Linked DNA regions of Homo sapiens: all the other regions are linked to region 4. A link means that fine-mapping ties the variant in region 4 to the plasma level of a protein whose gene starts in the linked region. Region 4 holds a variant in brackets. A gene starts in each other region. All regions are shown on their reverse strands. Region 1 holds the start of APOA4 (apolipoprotein A4). Region 2 holds the start of ART3 (ADP-ribosyltransferase 3 (inactive)). Region 3 holds the start of VASN (vasorin). Region 4 overlaps TDRD5 (tudor domain containing 5). Region 5 holds the start of SUSD5 (sushi domain containing 5).

Evidence for each region. A credible set is the group of variants that fine-mapping cannot tell apart. PIP is the chance, under the fine-mapping model, that this variant and not a neighbour inherited with it causes the effect. The UK Biobank Pharma Proteomics Project read protein levels with antibody pairs (Olink). The fine-mapping took linkage between variants from a reference panel, not from the people measured, so its PIPs are less certain.
Region 1: APOA4 starts here. The variant in region 4 is the best candidate, but not a certain one, in a credible set for the plasma level of the APOA4 protein (UK Biobank, PIP 0.90).
Region 2: ART3 starts here. The variant in region 4 is the best candidate, but not a certain one, in a credible set for the plasma level of the ART3 protein (UK Biobank, PIP 0.60).
Region 3: VASN starts here. The variant in region 4 is the best candidate, but not a certain one, in a credible set for the plasma level of the VASN protein (UK Biobank, PIP 0.70).
Region 5: it holds the start of SUSD5, and the variant in region 4 is the best candidate, but not a certain one, in a credible set for the plasma level of the SUSD5 protein (UK Biobank, PIP 0.58).

Annotation. Positions count from the first base shown.
Region 1 is chr11:116,822,939-116,827,034 of GRCh38, reverse strand. APOA4 (apolipoprotein A4) reads left to right here and starts at 3,731. Exons shown (of 3, transcript NM_000482.4): 1 at 3,731-3,892. The coding sequence starts at 3,844. RefSeq lists enhancers at 1,228-1,522, 1,377-1,743.
Region 2 is chr4:76,072,971-76,077,087 of GRCh38, reverse strand. It overlaps ART3 (ADP-ribosyltransferase 3 (inactive)), which reads right to left and starts at 2,379. Exons shown (of 12, transcript NM_001130016.3): 1 at 2,269-2,379; 2 at 1,130-1,207. The coding sequence starts at 1,198.
Region 3 is chr16:4,370,032-4,374,148 of GRCh38, reverse strand. It overlaps VASN (vasorin), which reads right to left and starts at 2,301. Exons shown (of 2, transcript NM_138440.3): 1 at 2,156-2,301. The region is part of intron 9 of CORO7-PAM16 (CORO7-PAM16 readthrough); the gene reads left to right. All of the region lies in intron 9 of CORO7 (coronin 7), which reads left to right. RefSeq lists an enhancer at 2,094-2,919.
Region 4 is chr1:179,600,634-179,604,750 of GRCh38, reverse strand. All of the region lies in intron 4 of TDRD5 (tudor domain containing 5), which reads right to left. Among named protein-coding and RNA genes, the nearest start is that of TDRD5, 11 kb to the right of the region's middle. The variant A/G (reference allele first, on the strand shown) is at 2,024.
Region 5 is chr3:33,216,699-33,220,815 of GRCh38, reverse strand. It overlaps SUSD5 (sushi domain containing 5), which reads left to right and starts at 2,006. Exons shown (of 5, transcript NM_015551.2): 1 at 2,006-2,130. The coding sequence starts at 2,019.

The DNA.
Region 1 (4,096 bases), not on the chromosome of region 4:
TGGATCTGAGTTGTCTGCTCCTGACTCTGACCTCTGGACTGACCCCTGGTTTGATCCCTGTGTGGTTGGCCAGGAGGGGTGGCTGTAGCTAATGCTGAGCTATCAGCCTCATTGCCTCACCAATCATTAAGTCTGCCTGTTGCACAGATAAGGAGAGGCTTGGAGAGGCGATGTCTCCCTCGAGATCACACAGGCCTTTCATGCCCACTAAGATGGACGTCCCTGACTCACAGGACCAGGCCTGGCTGGAAGGCAGTCTGCTCTTCCCATCAGCTACTTGCACCCTCTAAGACTGAGCACAGGGGGCTCTCATTCTCTCCCTGCTCCCCAAAACAAATCCATCTACAGATTGATGCAAAACGTACCCTCAGACTTTGGGAAGTAAATACATTCATTAACAGGTCACGTCCCCGCCACGTTGAAAGGCAGCAGGTCCCCTCGCGAGCGTGGGTGCACGCATGGGCTGTGCCAGTCCCTTGGTTCTTAGTGATTTGCACACTTCTGTGAATCCACACACACTCTGGTGGATGCTCTCGGACATGCTCAAATGGTGCAGGCGCTCCCAGCATGGGTGCACCCAGGCGGGCGGGTGAGACAGAAGCGCCTCTGGACCTCTCACATGCTAGTGGCACCGGCTGCTAGGACTGTAAGTCCTGGAGGTCAAACTGCGGCTGAGGTGTCATTCGTGACTCAGTCTCCTCCTCCCCTCTGGCCTGGGGAAGGGACAGGGGCACTGAGTACTGACCTTTGCTCCCGCTGCAAGCTGGACTGTGCCTGATTCAGGAGCAGGGTTGGGACCGATGGGTTCCAGGGAGGTGAGCCTTGCAGGAGTAAGACGTGGCTAACATTTAGTGATCACTTTTCCTATGTGCCAGACATTGTTGCAAGCACTATAAGATCATCTCAGTGAATCCTCACAGCCTAGGAGGCAGGTACAATGGTTATGTCTCACCAAGGTAACTGAGGCTCAGAGAGGTTATGAGACTTGCCCAAGGACACACAGGCAGTACGTGTTGGAGCCTGGATGCCAAGCCAGGGAGTGGACTCCAGCATCTGACCCCAACAATCACGGAGAGATGGCACAGGCTGCATCAAAAAGGAGGCAGCATGGTAGCGTGGGGACCACTACAGGGCAGTGGGGACCCAGCAGAAGGGGTGCCAGAGTCAGGAGGTCATTTGACTGCCTTTGACCCTAGGAAACATTAAGCCACTTCTGGAAACTGAAAAAATGAACACAAAGCAAATTAGAGTTAGTACAATTGTGGTCTACTCTGATGGCGTTCATTTTTACAAATAAATGTAGCTCACTGTTGTCAGGCACTGCACTCACCGACAGGAGCCAATAGTGCAACGTGCCTGGATGTCACCTCATAGTCACTAGGAGTGGTGTGGTCCGGCAGAGGGACCCATGCTGACGTGGTGTGTCACCTTCTCAGTGGATGTTTGTGTGTGATTATGCATGCAGCCTCATTTAGAGATCCAATAGACATCTAAGTAGAAGACCTCCTGGGCACCACCACCATTGCCCTCCATCCCCCAATGGGAGGTCCCCTGAGAGCCTCAGGTCCCAAGATTCTGCTCAAGCCAGCTGCTCCTGCCCAGGGAGTGTGGCTGGGGGGCAAGAAGGGCAGGAGTCAGGCCTCAGGCTGGTCCCACCCATCACCCTGCCTCTGGCCCACCTGGCGCCCCTCAGAGGGCTGAGTCTCACTCTGCCACTCTCACTAGAGGAGGGAGCACTCTGCTACCCTCCCTGCTTTGCTCCAAATCAGGAACACAGTATGATTATTATACAGTATGATTATTATAATAACAGCAACTATTTTTCAGAGCTTACTCTGTGCCAGGAGCTCTATAGGCAGCCCTCTGTATCCTTGGTTTCTGTGTCCATGGATTCAACCAACCTTGGATTGAAAATAATTTTTTAGGCCGGGCGTGGTGGCTCACGCCTGTAATCTCAGCACTTTGGGAGGTTGAGGCGGGCGGATCACGAGGTCAGGAGATCGAGACCATCCTGGCTAACACGGCGAAACCCCATCTCTACTAAAAATACAAAAAAAAAAAAAAAAATTAGCCGGGCGTGGTGGCGGGCGCCTATGGTCCCAGCTACTTGGGAGGCTGAGGCAGGAGAATGGCGTGAACCCGGGAGGCAGAGCTTGCAGTGAGCCGAGATCGTGCCACTGCACTCCAGCCTGGGTGACAGAGCAAGACTCCATCTCAAAAAAAAAAAAAAAAAAAAAAATATATATATATATATATATATATTTTTTTTTTTAAATTGCATCTGTGGGCCGGGTGCAGTGGCTCATGCCTGTAAGCCCAGCATTTTAGGAGGCAGAGATTGGAGGATCACTTAAGGCCAGGAGTTGGAGACCAGCCTGAGCAACATAGCGACACCCCATCTCCATTAAAAACAATGTTTTAAAAAAATTGCATCTGGGCAGGGCGCAGTGGCTCACGCCTATAAGCCCAGCACTTTGGGAGGCCCACATGGGAGGATTGCTTGAGGCCAGGAGTTGGAGACCAGCCTGAGCAACATGGTGAAACCCCGTCTCTGCTGTAAATACACAAATTAGCTGGGCGTGGTGGTGGGTGCCTGTAATCCCAGCTACTCAGGAGGCTGAGGCAGGAGAATCACTTGAACCTGGGGGGCAGAGATTGCAGTGAGCTAAGATCGTGCCACTGCACTCCAGCCTGGGTGACAGAGTAAGACTCCATCTCAAAAAAAAAAAAAATTGCACCTGTACTAAACATATACAGACTTTTTTGGTGATTACCTCCTAAACAATACAGTATAACAACCATTCACACAGCATTTCCGTCGTATTAGGTATTATAAGTAATCTAGAGATTTAAAGTATGTGGGAGGCTGTGCTTAGGTTATATGCAAATACTATGCCATTTTATATCAAGGACTTGAACATCCATGGATTTTGGTATCTGCAGAGGGTCCTGGAATCAATTTCCCATGGAGACTGAGAGATGACCGTACTACCCACTTCGCAAGCAATGTCTTCTTTAATGTACTGAACCATCCCATTGTTCAGAGGAGAAACTGAAGCTCAGGGCTTTGAATAACTAGACCAAGGAGGCACAGCATGGGAGTGGGACATGAAGCACTCTACAATTAACCCTTTCAGGACAAGGCCCTGTCTCCCACACCCATCTGCCCAAAGGCTCTCCAGGGCCCCCTCCTCTTGGGTGTACCTTGACAAGAGACCTAGATTTTAGCTCACTATGCTGTCTGCAGTCCTGGATGGTCCCACTCCAGTGTCTGGTGCTCTGAGATGGAGTCAGCATTAGTGGCGGATGTGGAGACTGGGGGGACCTGTCTTCACTGGGGTAGACAGAGGAGATGTGGACTTTGCCCCCCATGAGCCCGGCACAAACCCAGAGCCGCCAGCAGGGCCTCGAGGCATCAGTCCCGGGCTCATGGGCTCCCTGAGGTGTTTCTCCTACTGTTTTCCGTTCCCCTCCTCCCTTCCATGCTGAGGTTGGTGGGGTGGGGGTGGGGGTGCCCACGCACGGAACAGCCACCACTTCTAACTATCGCCTGAGCCCTGATCTGCTGTCAGCTTCCACGTAGTCTCAGGGTCACAAAAGTCCAAGAGGCCTCTTGGGAATGTGTCACCTTCCAGCGTGGAGTCACACTGAGGAAGGAGGAGGGGAGGGCAGCCAGGGGGGTGGCGATAGGGAGAGAGTTTAAATGTCTGGCTGGCTCTGAGCTTCAGTCAGTTCCCACTGCAGCGCAGGTGAGCTCTCCTGAGGACCTCTCTGTCAGCTCCCCTGATTGTAGGGAGGATCCAGTGTGGCAAGAAACTCCTCCAGCCCAGCAAGCAGCTCAGGATGTTCCTGAAGGCCGTGGTCCTGACCCTGGCCCTGGTGGCTGTCGCCGGTGAGTAGAAGCTGTCTTTGGATGGCACTCCTGGGCTGCTGCTCTGAGTAGTGCAGGATGGAGGCTGAGCCAAAGCAAAAGGACACTTCTGAGTGCCCATCAGCCCCCAGCTGGACATGAGGTCTGCCTGGCTGCCAAGTGGCTCACAGGAGAGCTGGCCCAGTCCCAGTGGTGGGCCCATTGGCATTGGTGCTATACCAGTTT
Region 2 (4,117 bases), not on the chromosome of region 4:
TACTGAAACCACTGAAGTATACAGCTAAAAATGGTGAATTTTTATGGTATGTAAATTATATTTCAATAAAAAACATACTGCGACACAGGAAACAGGATACACAATGATTCTATAGAAAATGGATTAGAATATTAAATTCAAAAAAGGATAACAGTTTAAGAATTTAAGATATTTTTAAAAAGGCATCTAAAATGGTGCACAAATACCCACAAGTAATGTGGCAGCTAACAACGTGGGGAAAAAAAATCAAGTGAAATATTATATTTTACATAAAAATATGTTACAGGATGCTTAAAGAGTCAATTGCAAATAAAATCATAAAAGTTCTGCCAGAAAAAAAATGTGGGAAAATGGTCATTAATTAAAAAACATGTAATCAAACAATGCAGCATTATCTTATTTGGAGAAAAACATATATTCAGAATATCTGATGACATGCGTGACATGCAGCATAGTATTAACTTAAAATGCAAAGAAAAAATTCTATGTACAGTGTGAACCCATTTTTGTAAATTAAAAACAGTATACACATAGAAAAAAGCCAAGAAGCCTGTATACACCAACAGGTTGGGAATCATTCCCTCTGAGTGGAGGAATTATGAATAATCTTTACTTTCCTCTTTTTGCTTAATTTTAATTTTTTCAACTTTTTACAGTTAATCTGTCACATATTTAAAATGAAAAGAGCTACTTATAATTAATTTACCTATCCTACCTACTTTCATTTCCACCATCAAGCCACACAGATGCCTCAGGTAATGTTATATCAAGAATTTCCATTCCAGGCCAAGCGCGGTGGCTCACGCCTGTAATCCCAGCACTTTGGGAGGTCGAGGTGGGCGGATCATGAGGTCAGGAGATCGAGACCATCCTGGCTAACATGGTGAAAACCCGTCTCTACCAAAAATACAAAAAATTAGCCAGGCGTGGTGGCAGGCGCCTGTAGTCCTAGCTACTGGGGAGGCTGAGGCAGGAAAATGGCATGAACCTGGGAGGCGGAGCTTGCAGTGAGCCGAAATCGAGCCACTGCACTCCAGCAGTCTGGGCGACAGAGAGAGACTCCGTCTCAAAAAAAAAAAAAAACGAATTTCCATTCCAATGACCACATGCTTCCCATTCCCAACATTACCTGGAAAATGTCCACTAGAATCATGGTTGCCAGCAGCATGGTGACTATTTCAAAATGTCCCGTCTTCATTTTTCTCTTCTAAATTAAAATAAAGAAATTTCAATTCAGTAGACTCAAAAAAGAGGTGTAGGGAAGTAGAATAGGATGACACTGCGTATTTTTTCATTTAGAATGTGAGTGGATAGCATGATGGTCAGGAAGTGATTATCAATAAATTCCTAACGGGCTACAAGAGCCATTAGGCTTTATCTAGTGGTCTAATGCTCTCATTCTACAGACGAGGAAACAAAAACACCTTAGAATTTCAGTGATTTGCTCAAGATTAAATCTGTGCATTTCCATACTCCTCCAGACATGTCATCTCTCCCACCACAGTCACTGGGAGTCATATTTTCTTCCCATCTCTAAATCTCCCCTCAGCGTGCACAGGAAATAACACAATCAGACTAAAAAACAGCAGTCTCAAATTGGTCCCCTAGCTCCCAGTTTCTAAGAATTCCCCAGGAATATGTCCATGCACATTATCCATTCTTCTATCCTCTTTGCACATTGTCATGCCCTTTTGAGTGGGACAGAGGAGATGATGAGGTCAGTAGTGGTACAAAGCAGTGGATTGTCAGAGATGGCCCCCTTCCCCCAAATACAATCAAGAGAAGCCCGAGGGTAAAATAAGTGTCTTACATAACTTTCTGAAGGCGGGAACAAGAATAAGAAGGAACTGGGTAGGCAGCAATTCTAAGATTATACAACTATTGGCCGAATGCCTAATATTCATCCCAGTATTTATGATAATGTAACTCAAATGAAGCTTCTATTTTACCCTACCAATCACCATATTCTGGATTCTAAAAATGAGAATGAACAGCACAGGGGAAGGGAGAAGTCTTCCCTTTTATAGATCATTTTGGCCTCAGTTTCCCATATTTCTTCAGAAGCAGTTTTGTTTTGTTTTTACTAAAAATACTAAAATATAGTACCAACATGCTACTTTGTGTTAAACTTCTCTTTCCAAAAAAGATTTGAATATAAGATGATAGATATCTGTCACAAGGCAATATGTTTTAAGCAAGCTTTGATCAGGATTTTCCTAAAAATTGTTCATTTCTTTAGTCTGAGTGTAAATAAGTCAAAAGGTTTACCTGGCTTTTGTGCCTTTGGAGGAAGTTTAAGTGATGCTAGGCCTCAAACTGACTCCCCACTCTCAGTTGTGGTAAGCAAGTCTTCAGGATGGGATGTTGTTGACAGTGAGAGCTGAGACAGGAATGCTTTTCTTTTTATAAACACCCCCAGCAGTAGCTTGGCAGTGGCACACTACGCTACTTGTGTTCTGCTATTTATATCTGGCCCCCCCACACTATGCCTTGGAATCACTGCTGTTAACACTTTAAATCTCCAAGAGGCTTGTAAAGCCATAGCAATTCCCTTTAGCCACACAGCACATTCAGTTCTGAGCCCACAGTTCTGGGCTTCTCTCAGAGAGAAATGACTTCCCATTCCTAATCCTTTGACACTGAGATATCAAACTAAAGCATGGATTTTACTCTAGGCTAAGTGATTCACATAACTAGGGAAACTTGCTCTGTTAATCACTGGCAATGGTGACAGCTATCACCATTCGCTCAACTAGCTTACTATATTTCAGGTACCTCGTCAGGAGTCGGGATACATAAGCAAGTAAAACAAAGTACTAAAAAGCACTCAAAATCTAATAAAAAACATGAATACGCATACTTAACCAAAATACAACATGTTAAGAATCCCAAGTATAGACAAAGTCCAGTGATAACATTAAGGAGGGAAGGATTTGGTAATGCCTGCAACTACAGCTGTCATTTGAGTAACGCATACATGGTAAATATACTGACTGCAATGCTGAGGAACACTTAGGGTTCACTGACTGTGGATTTAAAAAACACAAAAATGTCCAAAGAAATTCACGCATACATACACCAAAATACATTAATAGAATGTTGATAGTAGCACTATTCATAATAACCCCCAAACTGGAAACCAAATATCCATCAACAGTAGAATGGTTAGACTGTAAGTGAAATTTTATATAGCAATGAAAACGAACAAACTCTGACCATATATAACAATGTGGATAAATCTCACAAACAAAATTTTGAGTAAAAAAAGAGATACAAGCATGTTTATACTGTATGATTTAATTTATATCAAGAACAAAATTAGGCAAAACACTTCCAAGGCATGAGAAGTCAGAATAGTGGTCACCCTGGGTAGTAGCTAGTAACTGGAAAGGGCACAGAGGAGCATCTGAGATGTTAGCTGGGTTCTGCTTTTTGCTATGGATGCCAATTACATTGACAAATTCAGTTTGTGAAAATTCAGTGAGCTATATACTTATGATATGTGTTTTTTTTGTACACACATATATTACTTCAAGAAAACATTTTAAATTATCATGAAATACACCTATATTTACAAAATCCAACTCTACTCTTTAGAATAGAGATATGTTCCAACCTTTTCCCACCTCACTGGCTTGGCAATCCAAGATTAAATACACAGCACAGACTCACTCCCAGAAATAATATGATTTTTTAAAAAGCAGGAGTTTGGTTAGAAAGAAAAAAGAAAGTTTGCATGTCTTCAGGCCTTAGGCTCACAACAACCTGCTTTTAAGTTCCAAGCATGTAGGCCTACAGGAAATGAGGTAGAGAAGTTCTCCTGTCGCTGGCCTCCATTCCTGTTTTGTTCCAGTTTTTAACCAAATTTCTTTCATTCATTCATTGAACAAATATTTGAGTCCTTAAAATGTGCTAGGAACTGTTTTAGGTACTAGAGATATACCAGTGAACGAAATGGATAAATATCTTGCCTTTGTGAAGTTTATATTCTTGTGAGGGAAGGCAGTCAAATAACTAAAATAAGTACGTAAATTATGCAAGTATGTTAGAATGTAGTGAGTGCTATGGTTTTGGCTTTTGTTTATAAGTAGCACAAAGGAGACTAGGAGCGCATGGA
Region 3 (4,117 bases), not on the chromosome of region 4:
CGCCCACGCCAGACACACGCCCACTGGGCAGTGCTCCTGCAGACACACACACACACACACACGTGCACCCTCCCCCTTCTCCAAGAACTCACGCAAATTCCACAGCAGTGAGGGGAGCTGGTTTTCTTGGCAGCACAGAGCCTTGGGCTCCCCAGCCCAGGGAGGGGACTCTAAGGGCAGCTGATGGGGGGTCCAGGAGAGGTCACTAACAGAGTTAGGTGGCCTTGCTGCCCTCCCATGAGCTCAGGGCTGGCCAGTGGTCAGGGATAGCCATCCCTGTGGGCAGCCTCCCCTCTACACACCTCTGCTCACTGGCAGGACTGGCTGTCTGGCCTGCTGAGGTGGGAGCTCCCTCCTGGGCTCAGCAGGGCCCTGCTTTCTTGTTCCCAGAGGCTGCCCAGTGTTGTGTTGGGACCCACTTATAAGCCCAGGCAAGGACTTAATTTTCTGTACTTGGGACTTGTCCCAGCTCCCCCGGGGCTGTCAGTGGGGGTGACAGTAATGGGAGCTAGGAGCCGCGGACCCATCTCCTGCCCGGGGCATCTCCCTTGCCATCTCCCTGGCCCCTGGGCTGCGTGCCAGAGGGGCCTTCCTCGGGTAAGCACAGGTCTGGGCAGTGTCTGAGAGGCTCCTTATGCTGAATCCCATTCTCCCATTCCCAGAATATGGAGAGAGAGGTGCCATCTGGACAAATGCCCTGGGACCCCAGCCCCCAGCCCCATCCCCATCTGACCCTCCGGACCCACAGGTAGCAGGACAGCTGTTCCAACGTGCAGGAGACAGGGGCGGGGTGGGGACAGGCAGTGCCCGGCCCCCAGGCTGGCATGTGTGTGCGCATCCTCCCTCCCCAGGCCCAGGGGAGGCTAGATAATGGTCTGGAGGGGATCCAGCTGGGCTGCTCATCACCAGAGCCTCTTCCTGCCTCTGACACTCTGTTTACAGAAGCTCCAGGCCAACTCCCCTGGGAGAAGAGAGTAAACTCAGGGGACTGCTCCCCATCCCCCACCCGCCTGCCCCAGCTCTGTTGGGTTTTTGTCAATAGCTGGGCCCATCCTGGACTTTGCTGCCCCCTGGACTGGCCCTAATGGACCCTGCTTGGAAGGTCCCAGCCCGGCCACCCCTCTATGCCCTCAACACCCAAAGTACAGTCTAGTGTGAAGGGACCTTGGAGATTTTATCCAATCCCCAGCCCTGGAGGCTCTCAGCCTGGGGAAGGGGGCTCTAGGTCCCGCTGCCTCTCTCCAGAGCCTCACCTGTCCTTGGTGCAAAAGGCAGGCATGGGGACACCTAGACCCCCAGGACCTCTTCCTTCCACCCTGCACACTCCACCCCTGGGCCACAGCAGGGGAGGCGGTCAGTGACCCTGGTGTGGCAATCGTTAACGAATGGGGGAGAGGCAGAATGGTTGGCACCAATCGGCTGGCCTGCCAGTGACCACAGGGGACCTCAGCAGTCCTCAGGCCCCAGCACTGCCAGCCCAGGGACACAAAGGACTAGGCTGGCTCCAGGCCACTGGGTTTGCAGCCCAAGCAAAGCCCCTTCCCTGGCAGAGGCAGAGACCCGGCACCCTGCCTGATACCCGAAGCTCTAAGGGCCCTGGCCAGTACAGGTCCATCCCCCACCTGGAGGGATGGGCATCGGACGCCCACCAGCCACTCCCCGCCCCTCCCTAGGGCTGCATATCTGTAGCCCCCAGCTGTGCTTTGAGTGACAAGGGTCCAGAGGACCCCGGGCAGCCCTTCTGCACAGCAGCACCTACTGCCGGACCCCAGGAGGGAAAAGTGACCCAAGCCTGTGGCTTGGCTATCCCCCTCAAAGGGGTTTGATTCATAAAACTGGTCATGCCGGAGGCCCAGCCGTGGGAGGAGGAAGCATGGGACGGGGTGTTTATTTTGTCTGCTTGCAGCCTCGCGGGCTCACCGCACACTCAGGCGCGCACCCTGGCCGGCCGCGGGGCTGTCGGCGCCCCAGGACGGCGGGGGAGGGAGCGTACAGGGCCTGCCCGCCGGGCGGCCCAGGTGACCGTGTGGGGCTGGGGCCGCGGTCCCGCCCGAGAGTGCGTGTGTGCGCGCGGCGGCGGTCCCCGCGCGTGTGCACAGCCTGGCCGTGGCGCCCCCTTCCCCGCCCGCAGCCCCCCAGCCCCACAGAAACTCACCGGGAGGCGGCGGCGGCGCAGGGAGCCGGGCGGGGCAGGCCGCGGCCTCAGTCTTTCCTGGCGGGTCGGGCCCGAGGGGGTCCTGGGTCCCGAAGCAACTGCGTTCGAGTCCGCGTCCACCCGCCCCGGGCTCGGGCTCCGGAGTCGGCTCGCTGGAGGCAGGTCGCGCCTTAAGAGTCCCGGGGGGCGGGCCCGCCGCGGCAGGGGCGGGGCCTCTCCCCATTGGCCGGGGCGGAGCCGCGTGGAGACACGCCCCTTCCCCACCGAGGGGCTCGTGGGCCGGGTTGCCCTGGCCCTCACCCTGCGGCCACCTGACCTGCGCGGGGAGACCTTGCCCGTCGTGGGTTTGCCGGATGACACTGGGCAGGTTTCTGCTTTTTGTGTAAAAAGCGAGAGACTATTTAGGAATCCTAAGCGTCACAGCCCAGATGCCTATGAGGCACCAGGCAGGTGACAAATGCCAGAAGTCCACCCCAGGGCCTCTGCGGCCCTGGAGAGGCAGGATGGCGGGAGTGGGGCTGGTAAGGGCTGAGTCCTCATGACCAGCCCGGGCCAGCTAGAGCTTTGGATTTTTGAAGAGAAACTGGAAATCCAGATTTTTAGGTGAAATCTCTCAATGTGTTATTGTTGGTAGCTAATCCCAATTTCAAAAAACTCCTGGCAGCCCACACAAAGCCCTTTCAAGAGCCTCCTAAGTATAAACTCCAATGCCAAATCTGAGCTCAGGGTCCTCTTAGCCACGACAGCCTTAAGAGTTGTGAGCAGCCCTGGACTCTCTTCCCCACCATATTATGAGATGAAGGGGCTGTGTCAGGGAGGGCAGTGGTGGTCTGCCCACGGCCCCACAGTTACTGGCAGCTTCAAGCCTGAGCTGTGGAGGCATAGGGGTGGTCACCGTCGGTGGGTGGGGCCTGGGCTGCAGTTGACAGTGGCCCTTGATTGGGCAGGAGGGGCGGGTGCCAGGGGCCGGACTAGTCCAGAAAAATCCCCTGCCTTGGAGGATTCCAGGAAAACACTCTGCCCTCCTCCCCCTCCGCGTTTGTGGTCAGTCATGCCTCAGAGCCTTTGGGGGCCCAGCTCAGCTCCTGACTTCCGGAGAGCCTTGGGACACCCACACCCCCTCCAGCCCGGCCTGTAGCCAAGGCCCTTGGCTGGGCTAGCTCTAGTCTTTGGGGGGCCTGAAGGCTTATCCCTGGGAGGCTGGGCCACACCAGCTGGAGGGTTTCCTAGTCTCTGGAGGACTCAGTTATCTCCAGAAGGCAGGATGGCCTCTGTGTCTAGCCGTCAAGGGCTAAGCAGGGCCTGGCTGGGACAGTCACCTTCTGGACCTCCCGTCCACAGGGCCCTCTCCCCACAGGGCCCCTTTCCAGGGCTGGCAGGGCTCCACAACCCATACGTTTCTCGGTCTACATGGATTAGGGCATGGCTTGCGGACCTCTGTTCCTGGGTTGGGGCTGGCCTTTGGGTGCATTTAGTGCAGGCTTTATGGGAGTTTTTACAACTTTGAAGGCACTGCTAACATTGAAAAATCAGGTGGTTTCATATTAAAATGGGGCTTCCCAGCTTGCATTGAACAGGAACTCTCAGCTGGGGCTGAGTGGCGGTTGCTCCCTCTGCCAAAATGTGGGCTCATGGGTCACCCCAGTCCCCACCACTCCCTGCTGCCTCCTGCCAAGCTGTCCACTCACTTGAGTTTCCTGCCCGGCCCCAGAACCATCTGAGTTTCCAATCAGTGCTGTGCAGCCTCTTGTCGGACTGTTTCCCTGCCTCTTCCCTTGGCCCTGTGTCCTCTGAAGCCCTCAGAAGCATCCACAGATGCCCAGGGTCAGGGGTAAAGAGGGCTCCAAGAGCCTCCAGCCTGGCTTTCCTCAAGGAACAGGACCTCCTGATGTCCTTGAAGCTTCTCACCTCTGTGGCAGGTTCTTGTAGACGGAGAGACCCCATCTGCCTGGTGTTCACCCC
Region 4 (4,117 bases):
TTATATCAAGCACTTTTTCAGACAACAGAGGAATAAAACTGGAAATCAACTCCAAAAGGAACCTTAAAAACCATGCAAATACATGGAAAATTACCTGCTCCTGAATGATCATTGGGTCAAAAATGAAATCAAGATGGAAATTAAAAAATTCTTCAAACTCAATGACAATAATGACACGGTCTATCAAAAACTCTGGGATACAGCAAAGGTGGTGCTAAGAGGAAACTTCATAGCCCTAAACGCCTACATCAAAAAGGCTGAAAGAGCACAAACTGACATTCTAAGGTCATACCTCAAGGAACTAGAGAAACAAAAACAAACCAAACCCAAACCCAGCAGAAGAAAGGAAATAACCAAGATCAGAGCAGAACTAAATGAAATTAACAACAACAAAAAAATACAAAAGATACATGAAGCAAAAAGCTGGTTCTTTGAAAAGATAAATAAAATTAATAGACCATTAGAAAAATAAACCAAGAAGAGAAGAGAGAAAATCCAAATAACCTCATCAAGAAATGAAACAGGAGATATTATAACTGACACCACTGAGATACAAAAGATTATTCAAGGCTACTACAAACACCTTTATGCACATAAACTAGAAAACCTAGAAGACATGGATAAATTCCTGGAAAAATACAACCTGCCTAGCTTAAGTCAGGAAGAATTGGATACCCTGAACAGCCAATAATAAACAGTGAAATTGAAATGGTAATTTAAAAATTACCAACAAAAAAAAGTCCAGGAGAAGACAGATTCACAGCAGAATTCTAATAGACATTCAAAGAAGAATTGGTACCAATCCTTTTGACACTATTCCACAAGCTAGAGAAAGAGGGAAGCCTCCCTAATTCATTCTATAAAACCAGCATCACCCTAATACCAAAATCATGAAAGGACATAACAAAAAAAGAAAACTACAGATCGATATCCCTGATAAACATAGATGCTAAAATCCTTAACAAAAATACTAGCTAACCAAATGCAACAACATATCAAAAAGATAATCCACCATGATCAAGTGAGTTTCATACCAGGGAGGCAGGGATGGTTTAACATATGCAAGTCAATAAATGTGATACACCACATAAACAGAATTAAAAACAAAAATCACATGATCAACTCAATAGATGCAGAAAAAGCATTCAACAAAATCCAGCATTGCTTTATGATTAAAACTCTCAGCAAAATCGGTACACAAGGGACATAGCTCAATGTAATAAAAGCCATCTATGACAAACCCACAGCCAACATAATACTGGATGGGTAAAGTTGAAAGCATTCCCTCTGAGAGCTGGAAGATGACAAAGATGCCCACTCTCACCACTCCTCTTCAACATAGTACTGAAAGTCCTAGCCAGAGCAATCAGACAAGAAAAATAAATAAAGGACATCCAAATCAGTAAAGAGAAAGTCAAATTGTCATTGTTTGCTGACAATATGATCATTTACCTTGAAAACCCTAAAGACTCCTCCAGAAAGATCCTAGAGCTGATAAAAGAGTTAAGCAAAGTTTCCAGATACAAGATTAATGTACACAAATCAGTAGCCCTTCTATACACCAAAAGTGACCAAGCGGAGAGTCAAATCAAGAACTCAACCCCTTCACAATAGCTGCAAAAATAACAAAATACTTAGGAATATACCTAACCGAGGAGGCAAAAGACCTCTACAAGGAAAACTACAAAACACTGCTGAAAGAAATTATAGATGAAACAAACAAATGGAAACACATCCCATGCTCATGGATGGATAGAATCAATATTGTGAAAATGACCATACTGCCAAAAGCAACCTACAAATTCAACGGAATCCCCATCATAATATCACTATCATTCTTCACAGAATTAGAAAAAACAATTCTAAAATTCATATGGAACCAAAAAAGAGCCCGCATAGCCAAAGCAAGACTAAGCAAAAAGAACAAATCTGGAAGCATAACACTACCTTATTTCAAACTATACTATAAGGCTATAGTCAACAAAAAAGCATGCTACTGGTATAAAAATAAGCACATAGACCA[A/G]TGGAACAGAATAGAGAACCCAGAAATAAACCCAAATACTTACAGCCAACTGATCTTTGACAAAACAAACAAAAATATAAAGTGGGGAAAGGACACCCTTTTAAACAAATGGTGCTGGGATAATTGGCTAGCCGCATGTAGGAGAATGAAACTGGATCCTCATCTCTCACCTTACACAAAAATCAACTCAAGATGGATTAAGGACTTAAACCTAAGACCTGAAACTATAAAAATTCTAGAAGATAACATTGGAAAAACCCTTCTAGACATTGGCTTAGGCAAGGATTTCATGACCAAAAACCCATCAGTAAGAAAAAAAACAAGCAATCCCATCAAGAAGTGGGCTAAGGACATGAATTGACAATTCTCAAAAGAAGATATACAAATGGCCAACAAACATATGAAGAAATGCTCAACATCACTAATGATCAGGGAAATGCAAATCAAAACCACAATGAGATACTACCTTACTCCTGCAAGAATGGCCATCATCAAAAAATCAAAAAACAGATGTTGGCATGAATGCGGTTAACAGGGAACACTTCTATGCTGCTGGTGGGAATGTAAACTAGTATAGCTGCTAAGGAAAACACTGTGGAGATTCCTTAAAGAACTAAAAGTAGGCCAGGTACGGTGGCTTATGCCTGTAATCCCAGCACTTTGGGAGGCCGAGGTGGGTGGACTGCCTGAGCTCAGGAGTTCACAACCAGCCTGGACAACATGGTGAAACCCCATATCTACTAAAATACAAAAAATTACCTGGGCGTGATGGCGTGTGCCTGTAGTCCCAGCTACTCGGGAGGCTGAGACAGGAGAACTGCTTGAACCCAGGAGATGGAGGCTGCAGTGAGCCAAGATTGTGCCACTGCACTCCAGCCTGGGCGACAGAGCAAGACTCCATCTCAAAAGGAACTGAAAGTAGAACTACCAGTTGATCCAGCAATCCCACTACTGGGTATCTACCCAGAGGAATCATTATACGAAAAAGATACTTGCAGATGCACATTTATAGCAGCACAAATTGCAATTGCAAAATCATGGAACCAACCCAAATGCCCATCAATCAACAAGTGAATAAAGAAACTATGGTATCTATATACAATGGAATACTACTCAGCCATAAAAAAGGAATGAATCAGTGGCATTTGCTGTGACCTTGATGAGACTGGAGACTATTATTCTGAGTGAAGTAACTCAGGAATGGAAAACTAAACATCATGTTTTCACTGATATGTGGGAACTAAGCTATGAGGACGCCTAGGCATAAGAATGATACAAAGACTTTGGGGACATGAGGGGAAGGGTAGGAAGGGGGTGAGGGATAAAAGACTACAAATAGGGTGCAGTGTATACTGCTTGGGTGATGGGGGCACCAAAATATCACAAATTACCACTAAAGAATTTACTCATGTAACCAAATACCACCTGTACCTCAACCACCTGTGGAAAATAATAAAACAAACAAACAAAAACCCAAAAAACAAAATAGCCAAACCATAAACCAACTGAACTAAAAGGTAAAATAGACAAATCTATAATTATGTTTGAAAATTTCAATACTCCTCCCTCAGTAGTTCATTAAAAAAGTTAAAAAGAAATCAATGACATAACTGACTTAATTGACATTTATAGAATATTATACTCAAATATAGCAAAATACATATTCTTTTGAAGTGAATTATGAAACATTTACCTAGATAAACATATTCTGAGCCATATGAGTCTCAATAAATATATAAGGAATGAAATCTATGTTGTTGGACCACAATGAAATTCGAACAGAAACATCTCTGAAAAAAATCCCCAAATATTTGGATATTAAACAACACACTTCTAAATAATCCATGATACAAAGAAAAAACCAAAAGGGAGATTAGTAAATTTTGACCTGAAAATGAGTTTTCCTATCAAATTTGAATTTCATATCAAAGTTTGGGAGATGTAGCTATAGCAATACTTAGAAGAAATTTATAACCTTAAATGTTTACATTAAAAAGGGAGCAAAATCAATGACCAAACTTCTACCTTAAGAGCAAAGAGGAAATTAACCCAAAGTAAACAGAAGTTACAAAACAATGAGAACAGAAATCAATG
Region 5 (4,117 bases), not on the chromosome of region 4:
CTCACTCCTTAGGTTACCAGCTAACTGTTAAAAGGGAAGGAGCTGGCCGGGTGTGGTGGCTCATGCCTGTAATCCCAGCACTTTGGGAGGCCGAGGCCGGCGGATCACGAGGTTAAGAGATCGAGACCATCTGGCCAACATGGTGAAACCCCGTCTCTACTAAAAATACAAAAATTAGCTGGGCGTGGTGGTGCACGCCTGTAGTCCCAACTACTCGGGAGGCTGAGGCAGGAGAATCGCTTGAACCTGGGAGGCTGAGGTTACAGTGAGTCAAGATCGCTCCACGGTACTCCAGCCTGGCAACAGAGCGAGACTCTATCTCAAAAAAAAAAAAAAAAAAAAAAAAAAGGGAAGGAGCTAAGTAAATTCATTTATACTTGTCAGGCCTCACTGCATTTAACACCTCACTGCATTAACAGCTACCACGCCCGGCTAATTTTTGTATTTTTGTAAAGATGGAAATTTCACCATGTTGGCCAGGCTGGTCTCCAACTCCTGATCTCAGGTGATTGGTCGGCCTCCGCCTCCCAAAGTGCTTGGATTACAGGCCTGGGCAACCGTGTCCGGCCAGTATTTGTATTTTGAAAGCAAAGTTTAATTATCCAAAATAATTACTCATTAATAGTAGCCCTTGTAGTTGATGGGAAGTAATAAGGAGAGAAGAAATCTTTTCAGTACATTTCAACAATTAATGCAAGCTGAAAAATGACACCTGTAGTAAATCAGATGTGGATTCAAATCCAAGTTCTTACTGTGAAAAGAAAGTAAATTATTTCAATGTCTGTGTCCTGGTTCATTAAATGAGGATAATCATCTGCCCCTTTAGCACCAATCACTTTTTCAATTGTAAGTATATTTTATTTAAGTGTGAACATTTTTAGGACCGATTGCAGCCACATTCAGGGTCTAGCACAGGGACAGGCATGTATGGGCACTCAATAGATGTTTGTTGACCCATACATCAATATAAAAGGGATTTGCAAATTGTAGAGCACCGCGCATGCCTCAGTTATAACAATACTGATCTTTATTACTCTACCTATGAAGAAAGCAAGTTCTTCTTTCACTGAACAGGGCTGGTGGTAGGGAGACAGGCTAGGGGCGAGCAGGAAGAAGGAATCAAGTCAAACAGGGACCCCTGCAGCAGAATCCATTGGGACACTTTAACTTAGAGTGTAGATTCCCAGACCAGACCGACAGAGTCCGAATCTCAGACCCTTTCGAGGTCAAAAAGCCCTGATTTGGGAGGTGGGTGATAATGGTGACAATCTCACTAGCCCTCTTACTGCTCCTTGAGAAATACTAGCGTACCAGGAAAAGTGGTGAAGGAAGCGTTCCTGAAGATATCCTTTCCTCAGTGACTCTCAAACTTCGCTTTTAGGAAAGAGGAATTTCGCTATTCCATGCGTTTCACACCTTAGAGTGAGGGTGGTAGGTAACTTAGATTTTCCTCTCTTCATTAAAAAAAAAAAAAAAAAAGAGTGTTGGTGGGGAGGGGGAGGAGGCCAGTTGAAAAGTAGAGGCCGAGGACAGAGTTAGACACTCGTTGTCTAACGGCCCTGCCGGAGGGGCTCCGCCTGTCAGACTGCGTCACCCTCTCGCCAAGGGTCCCCCAGACGGGCGGGGGCTCCTTGCGGCCGGCTAGCTACTCTCCCCGCCTCCCTGCGCCCTCGCCCTCCGCCCCGCTGTACCCGCAGAGCGCGCGGCCCAGCGCAGCCCCTTTTGGCACCGAGGTTTCCAGGTGCCCAGCGCGAAGGCGGAGCCGGGTTACAGCCGCCTCCTCGGCGCCACAGAGAAGACCCCCGGGAGTTCGGCGGCCCAGGCGCTCCGGCTCTGCGTCCCGAGCCTCCCCCGGCTCTCCGCGCTCCTCCCTCTCGGCGCGCCCGGCGCGAAGCCTGCGATTCGTGAGCCGAGCGCAGAGCGCAGAGCCGAGTGGCGCACGCTGGGCAGTGGCCTGGGCAACCCCAAACGCAGCCAGAGCCCTCACCCGAGTCCGCTGGCCCGCGCACTCCCGGACCATGACTGCCGAGGGACCCAGCCCGCCTGCCCGTTGGCACAGACGCCTCCCCGGGCTCTGGGCGGCGGCGCTGCTCCTGCTCGGTCTGCCGCGCCTTTCGGTGCGGGCGGATGGTGAGTGTGCGGGAGGCGGCGGGGCGGGGGGTGGAGCGTGGGGTCCGGGCAGGGAGGGCGTAGCTCGCCGGGGCTGCTCCCTCTGACCGGCCCGGCAAGCGGCAAGCGCAAGCCTGAGAGGAACGAACGAGCCGCGGTCCTGCGACCCAGCATCCCTCTCCTGGCCCACCAAGTCTCCGCGTGCCCGTGCGCCCAAACGCCCGCCTGGTGCCTGGACCCTCCCTTAGCGCCGAGCGCGTAGGTCCCGCAGTCCCGCCGCTGGCTTTCCTAAGGTCTCCAAGAAAGCTCGAATGAAATCACCTCTAAGGTGCCCTAGAACCTCCTCTGCTAAGGGGTGATTTTCCGCCGTCCCTCAGTTTCTCAACGTCTATTAATGTGCCCCTGAGGACACCGCCGATGGTTAGAAAACTCCCTCGGATATTTTGGCTTGGTCCGGGAAGACGTGAAAGATGAGTGGGAATCAGCGAGGCTAAGAGAGAGAGAATGGCCTGGCCAGAGGGAAAAGCACGTGCAAAGGCTGTCTCTGAGTGACAGGAAAAACGGGACAAATGATAAAGCAAAGTACCTGGAGGCGAGGGGACGTCTTGAGACATGAGGTAGAGAAGTGGGCAAGGGCCAGATTATGGCAGGTTCTCTGAGAATTGATCCACTTCTTGTTCGTTTGCTTGGTTTTTCAGCCTGAATTTAGCTTGTAATACTTGCCCTAAAATGAGCAGGATTGGAGCTCTGTATCCATTCCCTTTTGAAAAGCTAATTCAGCTGTGTTTTCATATTAGAACAAAATCCCGCTGACTTGGTACAGGAGCATCTGAAGGAAGCAAGCTTAAAGCCAGCAGTTCTCACACCCATGAGGTAGTTCTAGCTTAGGACGAATTAGACTGATAAAAGAGAAAAGCCCTCCGTCAATTTAGGATGCGTTGTATATTTTAAAATGTGATTCTTGTTTAGCCAACGATATTGAGTGAAACTAGAAGACATGGGGAAAAAAAAAAAAAGCATGGTTGTCAGGAAAAGGGGAAAGCCAAGGAAAAAACCGTCTAGGTCGTAGAGTTTTTAGTGCTCTCTGTTTTAAGTGCAGGCTTGAAAAGCTCTCCGTTCCTAATTAAGGATGAATGTCGTATTTCTCCATATCCTCAGAGAGAGTGTTAGAGACAAAACATTTTTAACTTTGAAGGCTGTTAGTAACCACTGCTAATTTTTTTAATTGACATGTATTTCACATAAAATTTGTCATTTTAAAATATACAGTTAAGTGGGTTTTAGTATATTCATTAGGTTGTGAAAACCATGGTTTGCATGCATCTAATTCCAGAACATTTCCATCACTCCTCAAAAGAATCCCATACCTATTAGCAGTTTACTGATAATTCTTCACTGTAGTGTTTTTTGACTGACATTGAGCCATGAAAATTAAGCTGATTTTAAAGAATGCAAGTAGAATAAATTGGAGCTAATATTAATCTTTGAACAAGATATATTGTGCCAACTTTAATTCCTTTTAAATAAATATTTTTGCAATCCATAAGGTTTTAGAGTTTCATCCCATTATAACTGTTTAAGTGGAATGCCATGTGGATAAGGATCAATATTTTGTGCCTGTCTAGCTTGATACGGGTCATAGAAAATTAAAGGCAGAAATGTCACTGGTCAAAGAGAAAGTAAGGACAACACCAGAGCACATGATTCTTTGTTACTGCTTGCCAGAAATGATTCCTTTTCTTCATTCTCCTTCCTTTTCTTTCCCCACTTCCTCAGTGGACAATTATAGGTATACTTCCTTATAGTAAACTCAATTTTATGAGCTCCAACTTTTATACTAGAACCAGGAAGAGTTATAAGCTATATTATCAAAGGATTCTTTTTGGTACTAAATTCTTAGCTGCCACCAGTTCCTACATTTAGTTATTTGTGTGCTATGGTGACGGGAGGAAGAAGAAGAAATGCTCAGCTTAAGTATGATGAATTACAGATGTTTGAAGAGATAGAT